4 separate regions of the Homo sapiens genome follow, and regions 2, 3 and 4 are each linked to region 1. Evidence: fine-mapped expression QTL. A gene starts in region 1. Each other region holds a variant in brackets. All regions are shown on one strand. Distances are from middle to middle.

The links.
Region 2: its variant is fine-mapped to the expression of ZNF503 in whole blood (INTERVAL, PIP above 0.99). The same link has a PIP of 0.9 or more in T cells, blood mononuclear cells and monocytes.
Region 3: its variant is fine-mapped to the expression of ZNF503 in whole blood (TOPMed, PIP above 0.99). The same link has a PIP of 0.9 or more in blood mononuclear cells.
Region 4: its variant is fine-mapped to the expression of ZNF503 in blood mononuclear cells (TOPMed, PIP 0.95).

What each region holds. Positions count from the first base shown.
Region 1 is chr10:75,400,192-75,402,873 of GRCh38, reverse strand. It overlaps ZNF503 (zinc finger protein 503), which reads left to right and starts at 1,110. Exons shown (of 2, transcript NM_032772.6): 1 at 1,110-1,769; 2 at 2,500-2,682. The coding sequence starts at 1,455. ZNF503-AS2 (ZNF503 antisense RNA 2) reads right to left here and starts at 1,346. Exons shown (of 2, transcript NR_024421.1): 1 at 613-1,346. RefSeq lists an enhancer at 1,608-2,108.
Region 2 is chr10:75,435,853-75,438,534 of GRCh38, reverse strand. It overlaps LRMDA (leucine rich melanocyte differentiation associated), which reads right to left. Exons shown (of 7, transcript NM_001305581.2): 2 at 41-141. Among named protein-coding and RNA genes, the nearest start is that of LRMDA, 5.6 kb to the right of the region's middle. The variant G/A (reference allele first, on the strand shown) is at 1,123.
Region 3 is chr10:75,358,035-75,360,716 of GRCh38, reverse strand. It overlaps ZNF503-AS1 (ZNF503 antisense RNA 1), which reads right to left. Exons shown (of 4, transcript NR_038226.1): 3 at 2,010-2,207; 4 at 1-96. It also overlaps a transcript of ZNF503 not described here. Among named protein-coding and RNA genes, the nearest start is that of ZNF503-AS2, 42 kb to the left of the region's middle. The variant T/C (reference allele first, on the strand shown) is at 1,410.
Region 4 is chr10:75,421,848-75,424,529 of GRCh38, reverse strand. No RefSeq gene overlaps it. Among named protein-coding and RNA genes, the nearest start is that of LRMDA, 8.4 kb to the left of the region's middle. The variant G/A (reference allele first, on the strand shown) is at 1,465.

The sequences.
Region 1 (2,682 bases):
GGCGCCCTGGGCGCACCTGCGCACTTTACTCTCGCTATTCATTTTCCTGACACCGTGCGCCTCTTTCATTCTTTTTCTTAGAGCCCCCACCCCACCCCCATCCCAGGAGGCCGCTCCTCTTTTCCCCTCCTCCAGTTCCCTCTCAATCTCCTCCTTCCTCTCCGTCTCTCTCTCCCTCTCTCTTTTTCCCTTCAAGTCGCACCCGCCTTGTAATCAGCAACAAAAGCTGACATAAATCACGGGAGGATTGACAAGAGCTGACAAATAACTGATTGATTGCGGTCGAGGAACATTGACAATTGATGGAGGGGTGGAGATGCCCAAAGAAGGGGGGGAGGGAGGAAAACAGGGTGGGAGAGTAAGAATGGGGGGTTGGGGGACAGACTGAGGGTGAAACAGAGGAAACATGTGACCCCCGCTGCTGCCCCAATCTACGCGTCCCCGGGCGTCACGTGGCCGGGAAGGGCGGAGAGCCCAGCGCTCCTCGCGGTGTTGAGCCGCCGCCGCTGCGACTGCCCATCTAGCTTCTGGTTTCTCCGCCGCGGAATCTGAGGAAATTAGAGCGGGCGGGCGGGCTTCTTCCAGCTCCGGCTCCCCACCTTGCCTTCTTACCCTGGTGGCTGCGCTGCGCCGCGCGGGATCTCGATTACTGCGAAGGAAAAAACACTGGGTGTGCAGGTTCCCTTCGCCCCTGGAGTTGACAGTCCGGCCGGTGTCCACACTCCCACCGGTGCTCCTTCTGGACACCCCCCGCAGTCTGTTCCTCACGCGCACCCCCCTTCAAAAGAAGGTTTCAGTTTATTTTCGAGCTGGGGAAAGGAAGAACGACGAGGAGGAAAAAAGAGGGAGGCGGCGGATGGCAAACGTAGAATAAATGTCCATCTCGTCCTCCCAGCGAAATCGAGGGAGGGGACACACAGGGGGGCGGCGAAGAGGGAGCTGCCCATTAAAACCGGCACTGAGAGTCCTGGCAGCGGCGGCGGCGGCGGCGCGGGACGCGTCACATCCCCTTGACCCTCCAATCACCTCGGGCTCCCATTTGATTGGAAGGCGGCAAAGGCTTTAATCTCCCCCTTGGTGCAGCTGCTTTTGAAGTGAGTTTCCTCGCCAGAGCCCCGGCTGGACACGCAGCGGCTCGCATCGCAGAGCGCAGCGCCGGCGCGGGGCCGCGAGAACGCAGCGCAGGGGAGCAGCCCGAGGCGGACACCGCGAGCCGCCCGGCACTCCCGCAGTCCAGCCGGCTCCTCTAGCCCGGCCACGGCTCCGCTGCGGGCCACCCAGGATTACTCGCGTCTGGCTCCAGGCGCCGAGAAGGCGCGCTGGGCGCCCGTGGCCGCCGCGCCAGCTCCTCCTCCTCCCGCTGCTCCTGCTCCCGGGGCGAGCGCGCAGCCCCGAGCCCGCCCCGCGCCTCCCGGAGCCCTCCCCCCCGCTGCTCCCATGCGCGCGGGTGGGTCATGAGCACAGCGCCCTCGCTTTCTGCCCTAAGAAGCAGTAAGCACAGCGGCGGCGGCGGCGGCGGAGGCGGAGGCGGCGGTGCAGACCCTGCCTGGACCAGCGCGCTCTCTGGAAATAGCTCCGGCCCCGGCCCAGGCTCGTCCCCGGCCGGCAGCACCAAGCCTTTTGTGCACGCCGTGCCCCCCTCTGACCCCCTGCGCCAGGCCAACCGCCTGCCAATCAAGGTGCTGAAGATGCTGACGGCACGAACTGGCCACATTTTGCACCCCGAGTACCTGCAGCCCCTGCCTTCCACGCCGGTCAGCCCCATCGAGGTAAGGACCCTCTCTCTGGATCGCACTGGGACCACTACCCTGGCTGCCACCCTAGGGCTTTCTTTTTCTCGGGATCTGGGCGGAGGTGGGGGGGTCGGAGTGATTCAGCTCCCGAATGGGGGAAGAGGCTACTGCTTCCGTACCTCAAAACTAGGGCGGAAAAGGGGGAGGAAGTGGAATGGGGCGTGCATGCTAGGGAGCAAGGCTGCCAATACTTGTTTCTCCTTTCGATATGAAAGCCCCTACCCCGACCCAGGCCCCTTCACTCGGCACCGAAGGCAGGCGGAGGTCTGAAATACGGTTCCAAAGTCGCCGTCCTTCGTATCCGCAGAAGCCAGTGTGTGCACACAGCCTCTGAGGCGCCAGCCGCCCGAGCCCTTACTCTGAAGAATTAAGGAGTGTTTGTGGGGAGGGGGTACAGTTCTGGGTCTAGGAACCGAAAACCAAAACATTTTGCTCTTTAAAAATCTAGTTAGCGCTCAGAGAGGGCAGGAAAGATGCTGCTGGGGGTGGTGGTTGGGCGGGGGGAGCAATCTGCTGCCTTTCCCAACGGCGAGAATGTTTGTGAGTGGGTGTTGAAGAGGGGGTGCCGCCTAGAATTGCGCCTTGGGGCTGGGAGGATCTTCGTGGGCTGTTGCGGAGAGGCATTTGAACCCCAGAAGCCAGGATTCTAAAGGGTTTCCACTTCTTTCTCTGTGTGACGCTCCCCCCCCATCGTCTGACCCCGCAGCTCGATGCCAAGAAGAGCCCGCTGGCGCTGTTGGCGCAAACATGTTCGCAGATCGGGAAGCCCGACCCCTCGCCCTCCTCCAAACTCTCCTCGGTTGCCTCCAACGGGGGCGGCGCGGGCGGTGCCGGCGGCGGTGCTGCGGGCGACAAGGACACCAAATCGGGCCCCCTGAAGCTGAGCGAC
Region 2 (2,682 bases), 36 kb before region 1:
GCCTCCCAGGCCTGGCCTACATCTTGTGAAGGTTACATACCTCAGAAGGTTAAAGCTCAGATCAAGCCTCTTTGCGAAATGTCCACAGTCCCTGCCAAGGTGCTCTGGAATTTCTCTGCAGTCCTGGCCTATGTAGGACACCTGGAAATTAAATGGAACAGAAACAATGTGGCAAATGGAAATCACCCAGCTGCTCCCAACCCTGAAATTACTGATCCAATGATTGCTTCTGCAACTTGAAACACATGTTTCTCACACACAAAAAGGCCACACTTGTGACTGTTTCCCTGATCAAATCAGCTTTGGGGGCTCCAAGGACTCCACCAACAGCTCCCCTTTCCTGGTGCAGTTAACATGATGAAGACTAATCCCAGGACAATGGAAATTGGACTAAAATTGGCCAGATTCAGGTGTCCAAAAGAAACCTGAATATCAGGGCACATTGATATAACCGCAACAATCGCCCTCTCACTCAGGGGCTTTTGCAACAGTTGCTCCTCTGCCCCTTCTTCTCCCTCTCCTCCACTGCCCTCCAGTACCCTGGTATGCACATTACCTCATAAAAGACACAGCAGATGCACTTACCAGCATCCAACCTTCAGGGTGCTGGAACAAATAGGGTTGGAAAAGAAAACCTCCCCAGACCACAAATCCCATCCAGTTGCCACTGTGTACAAAATGCCCTCCACACCCAAACAAAGCTGATTTGAAGGCAACAGGGCAACAATGTGTGTCCGGGGCTCCTGAATGTCCCTCCTCCAGAGGCCCTTTGGCAGTCAATCCCACTCTGTGCACAAAGCTGTTTCTTTGGGCATTCTTCTATTTATTACAGATTATTTATTATTAAGTACCTGTATGTGCCCAAATATTAAAAAGCTGAACTGAACTGAATCTGAACTGATTCCAGAACCTGTGAGAAGGTCAGTGGACTTTCTCACTACCCTAATCACCCAGTTTTTGGAACCCATTTTTACAGACAGCACTCTGTGGGCAGATTGGCAACTAATCCTCAAACCATAAAATAAACCCATGAGGCCGAGTTGACCAGTGGGCCACAATGCATGCTGTTTCCCTAAAATACAACATGCTCAACCCCCAGCTTGAAATTCAAGCCCAAGACAC[G/A]GCTATAACCTTCTTCTGGTTTCCCTACAAATCACATTCTTCCACACATATAGACAAAGATCTCTTAGAATGAGAGAGAGAGAGACTCCCCAGGAGGGTGTTTCCTCATGGGAAACAAGACTATGGTGGCCATCTTACATCCTCAGATATTAGGTTCAACTATGTGAACTACCAATATCCAACCATTTTAGAACCACAAAATAGCTCTTTTACATGGTGCAACCTAATACAAGCTGCACTGAACCCTGACACCCTCAACATCTCCAGTCATCTCTCAACCTTCTCCTATCCAATGAGGACAAACTGCTGACAATGCAATATCCTATATCCACTCTCCTTCAGTAACTTCATTCTAGGAGGAGAGAAAATAAGGAGAAAGGATAGAAAAATAGCTGACTCCAATAAAGTAATTTTGACTCAAGAAGATATAGGCTAAAAAATAAAGGACTCTAAGTTCAATCTAGCAATCTCTCCTCTTTCTACCTGGGGTCCATCTTTCTTCACAGTTCCTTGTGTAATAAATTAAGTTCTGCTTCCAAGCTGAGACAGAAATCATATGCCAAAGAGAGACTGTGGCTATAAGGCCCTATTCTATCTGGGGACTTCGATTTCCCTCAGGATCTCTGCTCAGTCAGCAGCTTCTTGGCCAGGCGCGGTGGCTCATGCCTGTAGTCCCAGCACTTTGGGAAGCCGAGGTGGGAGGATCATGAGGTCAGGGGATCGACACCATCCTGACTAACATGGTGAAACCCCATCTCTACTAAAAATACAAAAAATATTAGCCGGGCATGGTGGGGAGTGCCTGTAGTCCCAGCTACTCAGGAGGCTAGGGTAGGAGAATGGTGTGAACCCTGGAGGCGGAGCTTGCAGTGAGCCGAGATTGCACCACTGCACTCCAGCCTGGGCGACAGAGCCAGACTTGTCTCAAAAAAAAAAAAAAATTCAGCAGCTTCTTCTGTATTGTACGTTCACAATGAACCCCAGGTCCATGGCGCTCACCAGAAAATCCATCCCATTCACCCCAGCCTGCACTACTGTCTTGCACATATTATCAGTCAAGACCTCTGTGATATATATAGCAGAGACGTTGAGTTTTAGATGCAGAAACTGGGCTCTTTCCTCTTAGAATGGCCAAGGACTAAATCTAATAGACACCCAGTTTGTCAAAACTTCTGATGTTTTATACAAGGAAACTAAGACTCCAGAGCCCTGCCCAGCACAATACAGCTTCTTAGTGATAGAGCCCAGATCAAGTCCTATGCCATAAATAAGGACTTCCAACTTGGGGGCCATGGAGTGCTTACAAATCCATGTGTGGGTGTGAGATTTCTCTCTCTCTTTTTTTTTTTTTTTTTTAAAGAGATGGGGTTTCACTGTGTTGCTCAGGCTGATCTCAAACTCTGAACTCAAACAATCCCCTCGCCTCAGCCTCCTAAAATAGCTGGAATTGCAGATACAAGCCACCATACCAGGCAGACATGAGTTTTCTTGATCAGCAAATGCCAGTGGTGCATCTATCATCATGTTTTGGCTTCAAAATGAGTCTTCTGAGCTGAAAGG
Region 3 (2,682 bases), 42 kb after region 1:
CTTGTTGGGTTCTTCTCCGGTTTGACCTGGTAAAGCTTCAGAACAGGCCTCTATAGAACATTACCTTCCAAAGTCTAGAGAATGGGCCAAGCCCACCTGTGGGGGAAGAAAGACAGTAGCAATCAACTCTGAATTCTTCAGGCTGGGTTCAGGGACAGATAGGGGTGGACTTCCAGCAGCCTAAGCAGGGCCAGGAATAGGGAGAGGAGAGAGGCACCTGGGGTACAAAATGTAAGGAGGCACCCACTCTCAGAGTCGCACAAGTGCAAACCTGAAAAACAAGGGCCCCCAGGCCGGTCACGGTGGCTCACGCCTGTAATCCCAGCACTTTGGGAGGCCGAGATGGGTGGATCACGAGGTCAAGAGATCGAGACCATCCTGGCTAACACGGCGAAACCCCATCTCTACTAAAAAAAATACAAAAAAACATTAGCCAGGCGTGGTGGCGGGCGCCTGTAGTCCCAGCTACTAGGGAGGCTGAGGGAGGAGAGTGGCGTGAATCCAGGAGGCAGAGCTTGCAGTGAGCGGAGATCGAGCCACTGCACTCCAGCCTGGGTGACAGAGCGAGATTCTGTCTCAAAAAAAAAAAAAAAAAAAAAAAAGAAACCTTTGGCAGCCATCCAACATCCTTAACCATCTTTTCCTTTCCATTTCTCAGCTCTGCGTTCCTTGATATTCTGCTTGGGCACAGACTAGCTGAAGGGAGACAGAGAGTCTCTTGGGCCTGGGTAATAAACACACCTAAAAACCAAGAGCTTCTCATTGCAGGGCAGGAGACAATAGGGGCCTGAAGTCAGAGGCTGTCCCTCGGGAGCAAATGAAGTGATTGGCTTCACTCTCAGGTTCCTGAAGCCTCTCCCAGGTGAAGACAAGAGGGTTACTAGCAGCTCCAGGCTTACTTCTGGCCAGTCCCAGGGGAAAAAGAGAGCTCCTCCTTCCCAGGAGCTGCAGCAATAGCTTTCACTGGCCCAGCCCAAGTCTAATGCCCATGGCTGAAATGATCACTGTGGCTGGGGACTAACCTGCCCTGAATGGTTAGCTCTACTCATGGGCTGACTCCTGGGGACCCCAGACATTCAACCACATTTGGAACCACATAGATTTAGTGAAGATGTGGGTTCTCCAAAGGAGAATCTGGTTGCTCTTGTAGGAGGGATGGGTGCTGAACAGGCAAACTCAAGAGCAGTCAACTCAACAGCCGGAGATGCTTCTAAAACTCTGGCTTCTCTGGAGGCCCACAGGACTCTTGCCCAAATCTGCGTTATTTGTGGGCCTCCTCTGTAGGCTTTCCTAAGGCATGAAATGCTTAAAATGCTTCTTGCTCATCTTTAGCCACCTAACCCTCTTCCCTAAGGCTCTGGCCAATGACTTGTGCATTACAGTCACTCAGGAAGAATTTGCTGATGTTA[T/C]GAAAGAATGAATGAGGAACTGTGCTGGGGCTGGGCCCAAAACTTTTATTAACTGCAGGGTTAAAAGCTATCGAGGGTCAGGGGCACCACAAAGGGGCAGAGGGAGTGAGTCAATTAACACCTGCCTTTTTATTTCCAAATCGAATTGTTGCATGAGGTTTGGGGATGATGTAACCACTCTGCAGTGTTGGGGCAGGATTTATGAGCTAGGGTATGTGGAGCAATGGTCTGAGCAGGCAGCTGGTGAGAGGCACTTACCCTGACTGCCCTCACTTGGAATCCTCCCGAAAATAATAGCTGTATGATATGAAGGCATCTTGGCAGAAGGACCGCTGCACCCAGGGTGGACCGGAGCTGAATCACTTTTTCCTGGGTTGGTATGGAAGGGTGTCCAGCTCAGGCATGGCTTCGTGTTGGGAGGGGAAAGGAGTGGGAATGTGGCAGGGTGGAGAATGAAGGGGCAGGCAGGATAGCATGTTAGCGCAGCCTTAGGGCCCGGGAATGGGGACATGCGCCATTGGAGTCATCCTAGGTTGAGTAGGGACTGGCATTAGCTAACACAGGGAGTCCATTTGTTAAAATCCATTCATTGTCTCCTACCTGAGAGGAGCAGGATTAACCTCTGCTGGAAGTTTCTGGGAATGTGGTTGGCACTGTACGAACTCGCTCACCACTCCATGGCCTGCTGTAGGGCTCGGGAGGGAGGAAGGAAGGCAGGCCTCCCCTCCTGCCTTTCCCACCAGTGCTTGGGTCCAAACAATGAATTTTCGACTGGGTCATTAAATGCTGATTAAAGTACTGGAGAAAAGAACAAAAGAAAAAACCAACATCAAGTGTTGTATGTACATACACGCTCTCACCCCAGGCCCCCCTTTCCCTTTCTCAAGCTGCCTCAAAGTTCGTTCCAACCCTCCATTGGAAATGCTATAAAAGGCCAGGTTAATTAAGTCCTATATATTACCAGCACAAACACTTCCAACTTTATTCCGGTGGCTCGGTGAGTGAGGAGGAGGCCGGGCAAGGTCCAGGCAGCTCAGGGTAATAAAACAGAAGACTCAATTACCTTGTACATTTGCAGTTTTATAAAATCATTTAAAGTTCTGCCAATGAAAAGCACAGTGGAGAGGCACTGGAATTCTGACATCCAGCAAAAGCTTAGGGAACCAGGATTCCCTTAGAGTTGTCACAGATAGCAAAGTCATCCTGGCCATCTCCCTCTTCCCTGGGCAGGAAAGTTCTCTCCATAGAGTGGCCCACGGCAAAATATGGAGGA
Region 4 (2,682 bases), 22 kb before region 1:
TTGATTTGCTCCTCAGCTCCAAATCACAGGTGGACTAAGGCTTTGGGATGCAGCAGCTGGAAGCAGAGTCATTCATGGACACACAGAGGTTCCACAGCTCTATAAAGCATCTGTGGTTTTCTTGAAGAGGGAAAAACGCAGAAGGAGTGCTGGCCCTTATGCATGTCTGCACTGGCACAGAATCTTGTGGACACACAAAAGCACACAAACAGGCTGGGCACATTGGCTCACACCTGTAATCCCAACACTTTGGGAGGCCAAGGCAGGTGGATCACTTAAGGTCAGGAGTTAGATCACCATGGCCAACATGGTGAAACACCATCTCCACTAAAATTACAAAAATTAGGCAGGTGTGGTGGCAGGTGCCTATAATCCCAGCTACTTGGGAGTCTGAGGCAGGAGAATCGTTTGAACCAGGGAGGCGGAGACTGCAGTGAGCTGAGATCATACCACTGCACTCCAGCCTAAGTGACAGAGCAAGATTTTGTCTCAAAAAAAAAAAAAAAAGCCCACAAACATACATGTAAGCACATAGCCACGTGAGACACATGCCAACCTTGGATCCATGTGTGCCATCTCACAGCTATGGTCTGAACCCTGAACCCCATTCCTAGGCATGTCTTGGTCTCCCGTCTCACTGAAATAGCTACTAGTGGCCAGTAGAGAATGCAGACATTATAGGTACCAGTACTTCCTTAAACCTGAGAGGATTTATAGCTTATACTGAGGTGCTAGAAATTTATTCATTCAGTTCATTTGTTCAAAAAATACTAGTTGAGTGCCTACTGTCTGCCTGACAGGAATCTAAACTCTGGAGACATAGCTATAAAAAAAAGAAAAAGAAAGTTTCTACCCTTGTGGAGCTCATTTTCAGTAGAAGAACAGAAAATAAACAAGGAGGTCAGGTGTGGTGGCACACGCCTGTAATCCCAGCACTTTGGGAGGCCAAGGTGGGTGGATCGTTTGAGCCCGGGAGTTCAAGACCAGCCTGGTAAATGTGGTTTTGCCTGTCTCTACAAAGCTACCAAAAAATTAGCTGGGCATGGTGGTGCGCGCCTGTAGTCCAAGCTACACAGGAGGCTGACGTAGGAGGATCAGTTGAACCCAGGAGGATGAGGATGCAGTGAGCTGTGATCCCAGCACTCCAGCCTGGGTAACAGAGCAACACAAGAAAAAAAGAAAGGAAAGGAAAGGGGAAGGGGAGAAGGAAAATACAGAGTGTGATGAGTCCTGTGGAGAACAACGCAGCAGGGAAGGGGGACAGGAGTGCCGGGTACACAGGGTGACGAGGGAAGGCCCCACTGAGAAACTGAGATGAAGCTGAGATCTGCAGGAAGTAGGGGAGAGCCAAGTGAACTTCTAGGGGGAAAATGTGCCTAGCAATAGGAACAGCGAGTGCAAAGGCCCTGAGGCAGCAAGTGCACGTCGGGCTGGAGTTAGTGATGGGGGAGAGTAATGGTAAGT[G/A]AAGTCACAGGGCAGGTGTGAAGGGGACAGATCATGTAGGGCCAAATAGGCTGAGGTTAGGACTTGAGTTTGTACTCCACCTGAGATGGAGAGGGTTTTTTGTTTGTTTTGTTTTTGTTTTTGAGACAGGGTCTTGCTCTGGCACCCAGGCTGGAGTGCAGTGGAATGATCCCAGCTCACTGCAGCCTCAACCTCCCAGGTTCAAGCAATTCTTCCACCTCAGCAACCAGAGGACCTGGGACTACAGGTGCGCATCACTACACCTGGGTAATGTTTTTTTAATTTTTTGGAGAGATGAGGTTTTGCCATGTTGCCCAGGCTGATCTCAAACTCCTGAGCTTGCGGGATCTGCCCGCCTCGGCCTCCCGAAGTGCTGGAATTACAGGCATGAGCACTCCTGGCTAAATCGGGGGTCCTGAGCAGAGGATGGGCCTAATCTGACTCACATTTTGTAAAGACTGCTCTGGCTGGCTGGGTGTGGTGGCTCATGCCTGTAATCCCAGCACTTTGGGAGGCCAAGGCGGGCGGATCACGAGGTCAAGAGATCAAGACCATCCTGGCCAACATGGTGAAACCCCGTCTCTATCAAAACTACAAAAATTAGCTGGGCGTGGTGGGGCACATCTGTAGTCCCAGCTACTCAGGAGGCTGAGGCAGGAGAATCGCTTGAACCCAGGAGGCGGAGGTTGCAATGAGCCTAAATTGGGCCACTGCACTTCAGCCTGGCAACAGAGTGAGACTCTGTCTCAAAAAAAAAAAAAAAAAAAAAAAAAAGATTGCTCTGGGCCGGGCGTGGTGGCTCACACCTGTAATCCCAGCACTTCCAGAGGCCGAGGCAGGCGGATCACAAGGTCAGGAGTTCGAGACCAGCCTCACTAACATGATGAAACCTTGTCTCTACTAAAAGTACAAAAATTAGCCAGGTGTGGTGGTGCATGCCTGAAATCCCAGCTACTTGGGAGGCTGAGGCAGGAGAATTGCTTGAACCTGGGAGGTGGAGGTTGCAGTGAGCCGAGATCGGGCCTCTGCACTCCAGCCTGGGCGATAGAGCAAGACTCTGTCTCAAAAAAATAAAAAAAATAAAAAAAGACTGCTCTGGCTGCTGTGCTGGGAATGGATCATGGAGAAGGGACAGAGGCCAGGAGGCAAGACAGCAGGCTGTCACAGGAATCCTGTGGACTGTGAACAGTGCCTGGATGTATTTTGAAGATGGCATCA